Linked DNA regions of Homo sapiens: region 1 is linked to region 2. Evidence: fine-mapped expression QTL. A gene starts in region 2. The other region holds a variant in brackets. All regions are shown on one strand. Distances are from middle to middle.

Region 1 (2,904 bases), 84 kb before region 2:
ACCAGGGTTTGGCTATTAGAAAAGTCTAGAAATTGAGCAAAAAATAAAATTAGGTGGTTACAACAGAACACTGCTCATTTTCTACTCTCTACAAATGATAAAACTATAAAATTATGGAAAAGAAGCGGATGAGATAAAAGAGCAGAAAGTTATAACTTGAATGATGAAGATGGATGACTTCAAGATTCATTTAGAATTACAGCACTATCAATGACCTGAGGATTAATTTATGACACTTAGAAATCACACATAGACATTTTGACGTGGTAGACATCAAACCTGCTAACCTGGAGCAGCTGACAGAAGTCATTGTGGCAGCCAAGTTCCACTCATACCAGTGCAATGTGCTTGTCTACAGTAGTAGCAAAGGAACCATTGACTAAGCAGCATGGGCTCCTCGACCCTGTGCAACAGACACTCCAAGTTTTTTGAAGAGCCTCAAGATCCCAGCAGTAGGTCCTTCTTCTCAGAAATAATTTCATCCATACCCAATGTAAAATGTAGCCATAGTGGGCAGTACCTGATGACCAGAGACTCCCTGTTGGTGAAGGTGTGGGACCTCAACATAGAGAGCAGGCTGGGACCACACCGGGACCACGAGTACCTGCACAGCAAGCTCTGCTTTCTCTATGAGAATGACTGCATCTTTGATAGCTTTGAATGTTGCTGGAATGGTTCGGATAGGTGCATAGTTGAACCACAAATAAGCAAGGGAAATCTCCCAACAGCCAGAAACGAAGAGGGAGCTGAAACCAGAACCGTAGCCTCTAAAGACGTTTATTGCGAGAGAAGCCCCACACCCCTGGCTGGCCTTGGGTGCATCAGCCAATAGCAGGAACCGCTGCCTCCTGTGAACAGCAAGTTGTGGCGCAGAGCTGAAGCCTTGGACCATGAGGTGTGGAGTTGGAACTGCGCCCTCAAAGATGATGAGGTCTCCGTCCACTGGAGTCCAGAGGGAAGTTTATCTGAGATCTTGCATTGGGGTGGCCAAAGCTCCCCTGAGATGTGTAAGCATAGCTTCCCATTACAAGGGTTTGAAGTCCCTCTCTCTCCCTCCCCCTCCGCCTCCTCCTCCCCCTCTCCCTCTCACTGGTCTCCCTCTGATGCCACCAAAGTTGTGAAAGCCGAGGCTGGACTGTACTGCCGCCATCTCGGCTCACTGCAACCTCCCTGCCTGATTCTCCTGCCTCAGCCTGCCGAGTGCCTGAGATTGCAGGGGCGCGCCGCCACGCCTGACTGGTTTTCGTATTTTTTTGGTGGAGACGGGGTTTCGCTGTGTTGGCCGGGCTGGTCTCCAGCTCCTAACCGCGAGTGATCTGCCAGCCTCGGCCTCTCGAGGTGCCGGGATTGTAGACGGAGTCTCGTTCACTCAGTGCTCAATGTTGCCCAGGCTGGAGTGCAGTGGCGTGATCTCGGCTCGCTACAACCTCCACCTCCCAGCCGCCTGCCTTGGCCTCCCAAAGTGCCGAGATTGCAGCCTCTGCCCAGCGGCCACCCCATCTGGGAAGTGAGGAGCGTCTCTGCCTGGCCGCCCATCGTCTGGGATGTGAGGAGCCCCTCTGCCCGGCCGCCCAGTCTGGGAAGTGAGGAGCGCCTCTTCCCGGCCGCCATCCCATCTAGGAAGTGAGGAGCGTCTCTGCCCGGCCGCCCATTGTCTGAGATGTGGGGAGTGCCTCTGCCCCGCCGCTCCGTCTGGGATGTGAGGAGCGCCTCTGCCCGGCCGCGACCCCGTCTGGGAGGTGAGGAGCATCTCTGCCCAGCCGCCCTGTCTGAGAAGTGAGGAGCCCCTCCGCCCGGCAGCCGCCCCGTCTGGGAAGTGAGGAGCGTCTCCACCCGGCAGCTGCCC[C/G]GTCCGGGAGGTGGGGGGCAGCCCCCGCCCGGCCAGCCGCCCCATCCGGGAGGTGGGGGGCGCCTCTGCCCGGCCGCCCCTTCTGGGAAGTGAGGAGCCCCTCTGCCCAGCGGCCACCCCGTCTGGGAGGTGTACCCAACAGCTCATTGAGAACGGGCCATGATGACGATGGCGGTTTTGTTGAATGGAAAAGGGGGAAATGTGGGGAAAAGATAGAGAAATCAGATTGTTGCTGTGTCTGTGTAGAAAGAAGTAGACATAGGAGACTCCATTTTGTTCTGTACTAAGAAAAATTCTTCTGCCTTGGGATGGTGTTAATCTATAACCTTACCCCCAACCCCGTGCTCTCTGAAACATGTGCTGTTTCCACTCAGGGTTAAATGGATTAAGGGCGGTGCAAGATGTGCTTTGTTAAACAGATGCTTGAAGGCAGCATGCTCCTTAAGAGTCATCACCACTCCCTAATCTCAAGTACCCAGGGACACAAACACTGCGGAAGGCCGCAGGGTCCTCTGCCTAGGAAAACCAGAGACCCTTGTTCACTTGTTTATCTGCTGACCTTCCCTCCACTATTGTCCTATGACCCTGCCAAATCCCCCTCTCCGAGAAACACCCAAGAATGATCAATAAATACTAAAAAAAAAAACAAAACAAAAAAACAAACAAACAAACAAAAACAAAAACAAGGGTTTGAAGTTTGTGTTGGTGGCAGCTGCGTGATCTGGAAAAGCTCACACTGAGGAGCTCTCCTGCCTCCATGAGGGCAGCGTGCAGGCGCCTGGAGGCACTGACGTTTTTCTGGGTCTGACTTCTACTCTGTTTACAGACTAATCTGCTAGCCTACAGTGTTTCACAGATGTTGACTGAAGACATGAGGTTCCTGGGTCCTTGGAGCACAGCAAGCAGCATGAGCCTCTTGCTGGCACAGGTTTCCCAGGGGGTGACACAAGGGGCCCAGGCAGATGCTATGCAAGCAGTGGGGCTGATGTCATGGCCGATGCATGCTGAGGTTGGAGAACTCACTGCTTTTTCAGTGGACAGTCAACAAACCTGCACTT
Region 2 (2,904 bases):
TCATAAGTAAGTTTAAGGAAAGGTGCTGTGCCTGGATGTGCACATAGGCCAGATTTATGTTTGACTTTACACAAACATCTCAGTGCAGTAAAGAGCAGTATTGCCGCCAGCATGTCTCACCTGCAGCCATAAGGCGGTTTTCTCCTATCTCAGTAAATAGAATGTATGGTTGGGTTTTACACCCAAGACATTCCATTCCCAGGGACAAGCAGGAGACAGATGCTTTCCTCTTATCTCAACTGCAAAGAGGCCTTCCTCTTTTACTAATACTCCTCAGCACCGACCCTTTACGGGTGTCTGCAAAGAGGCCTTCCTCTTTTACTAATACTCCTCAGCACAGACCCTTTACGGGTGTCGGGCTGGGGGACTGTAAGGTCTTTCCCTTCCCACTAGGCCATATCTCAGACAATCTCAGTGGGGGGAAACCTGGACAATACCCAGGCTTTCTTGGGCAGAGGTCCCTGCGGCCTTTCGCAGTGCACTGTGTACCTGGTTAATCGAGAATGGAGAATGGCGATGACTTTTACCAAGCATACTGCCTGCAAACAAATGGTTAACAAGCCACATCCTGCACAGCCCTAAATCCCTCAAACCTTGATTCAATACAGCACATGTTTCTGTGAGCACAGGGTTGGGGCTAAGGCTACAGATTAACAGCATCTCAAGGCAGAAAAATTTTTCTTAGTACAGATCAAAATGGAGTTTCTTCTGTCTTCCTTTTCTACACAGACACAGTAACAGTCTGATCTCTCTTCCTTTCCCCCACACTGCCGCACTCCCCTTGCCGAGATAGTGAAAATAGTAATCAATAAATACTGAGGGAACTCGGAGACCGATGCCGGTCACCTGGGCCCACTCTACACTTTGTCTCTGCGTCTTATTTCTTTTCTCAGTCTCTCCTCCCATCTGACGAGAAATACCCACAGGTGTGAAGGGGCAGGACCCCTTCAAAGGTCAAGGCCATGGAGGTTCCCCCAGTGAAAATTCGGGGCGGGGAGGTGAGGAGAGCTCTGGACGAACGGAAGAACGGGGAAGGCCCAGCGCAGGGCCTGAGTGGTTCGCTCACCGACACAGATGTCCCCCAGCTGTTCCGGCCTCAGATTCACGTCCTTGAGAACCGCGGTCATGACTGCCGAGAGAAGCTCGTCGGGGGTGGTGTCCTGCAGCAGAAAGAGCAGCCGCAGTGACCCCCACTCCCCCATGCCCACCCCAGGGAGACAAAGCGACCACAGCTGGGTGCGGAGCTGCCTCCGGCGTCCAGGATAACCAAACATACGAACCGGACCCCAGCCCGCGCCGGCGTCTTCCCACACTCGGCGCCCAGACCCTCGGGCCTCACCTTGAAGCCGCCGCGGCCCGCCCGGCAGATGGCCGTGCGCCGCCCGTGCACCACCACCACGTCCGCGGCCGAGGCCTGCGGGGCACCGCTCAGGCAAGGCGCGGCCTGCGGCATCCAGCCGGAATCGGCCGGACCCCTCAGGTGGCCCAGCACTACCTGCAGCCTCTGCATTGCGCAGGTCAACCCTGCAGACCAGCCACCAGTCCGGGAACTGACCGCGGAGTTAACAGACAGCCGTCCGCACACGCGCAGAACCACATCTCAGCCTCCAAGGCCTCAACTCCGCCCACAGCTCTGCGAACAGACGCGAGCGACCCTCCAAAAGTCCCGTCCACCTCCAGCCTCAGCCAACCACAAGGAGAGTCGGCCTGGGAACCCGCCCCTCCCCGCCACCGCCTACCAAGCCCTCTATAGGAGGGCCCACAGGCACCGCCCAGCCGAGCTTTCCACTCAATGCCCCGCCTACCTTGGCCTACCGCAGCCAACCAGAAGGTGTATCTTTACGAATCCCCGCCCAGAAATGCAGACCGGAAGTCTTTCCACCTTTTGTAGCCAAACCCGAGACCTGACCCCCAAATCCCTGTCTCCTGCCCGCAGCCAAACGGAAGGCTGGGCAGCCAGGACCGCTTACTGCTTGGGGGCTGGAGATGGAAGCCGAGGCTCTAATTCCTCTACCCACTTCCTAGGAGGCTCTGCTATCCCTCCGGTCCCAGTACCCGAGCTGGGGGACCTAAATACTTCCGAGACGCCCGAGTCCTGCTCCGACGTGGTTGGGCTTTCCCATTCTTTCGAGAAGACAGGGAATTTGGGCTTCCGGGCTGGCCGGGAGAACAGATTTTACAGACATGCGGGGTGTGACAAGCTCTCTAACTGGAGAATGAACATTTCACACTTTTACCAGTTTTACACCCAATTGGAATGATTTTATTAGTGCCCATTTCCCGTGCTAGGCTGGGGTCTCCACCAAGGCAGAGAGGTACCATGTATCCGGGGAGCCTGCGACACCCTTGACACTTAGTAGATGATCAATAAGTACTTGTCGAATGAGTAAATGAATGAACCAGGGCTCCCCAGGTCAGGACTGTGTCCCTAAACCTAAAGGGCAAGGCCACGTGCCCCCTTGACTCCCAATAGCAGGGCCATGTCTTCACCTGAGACCCTGGAGAGTAGTGCTGGGCTTTCCACAGACACCAAAGGACAGGGTGCCTTGTGCTCCCCAACCTAGTGTCATGACGTCCCCAACCATTTCGAGGGCAGGGCCACGGCATGCCTCAGGCTCCAGAAGGCAGCTGTCCGTTTCCCACTCCCACCTCGGGGAGCACAGCAGGGGTCTTCCCATACCCCTACTGGCAGGATTGCGTGTTCCCCAGAGACAGTGGAGGGCAGAGCTGGTGCCTTCCCACTTGTCCCCTCCTCGCCATCCTCGAGGGCAGGACCGTATGAACCCCTCAGATTCCTCCGTGGAAGAACTGTGGCTCCACCAGATCCCAAAAAGCAAGGCCCGTTTCCTACAACCCCCGAAGGAGGGTCGTCCTCACTCCGCCGCCAACCTACTAGCACCATCA

What was found. PIP is the estimated chance that this variant, and not a neighbour inherited with it, causes the effect.
Region 1: its variant is the best candidate, but not a certain one, in a credible set for the expression of ACAA1 in whole blood (INTERVAL, PIP 0.56).

Annotation. Positions count from the first base shown.
Region 1 is chr3:38,051,717-38,054,620 of GRCh38, forward strand. All of the region lies in intron 2 of DLEC1 (DLEC1 cilia and flagella associated protein), which reads left to right. It also overlaps the pseudogene PPP2R2DP1. Among named protein-coding and RNA genes, the nearest start is that of DLEC1, 14 kb to the left of the region's middle. RefSeq lists an enhancer at 827-1,671. The variant C/G (reference allele first, on the strand shown) is at 1,847.
Region 2 is chr3:38,135,526-38,138,429 of GRCh38, forward strand. ACAA1 (acetyl-CoA acyltransferase 1) reads right to left here and starts at 1,602. Exons shown (of 12, transcript NM_001607.4): 1 at 1,340-1,602; 2 at 1,067-1,160. The coding sequence starts at 1,510. RefSeq lists enhancers at 2,717-2,904, 2,820-2,904.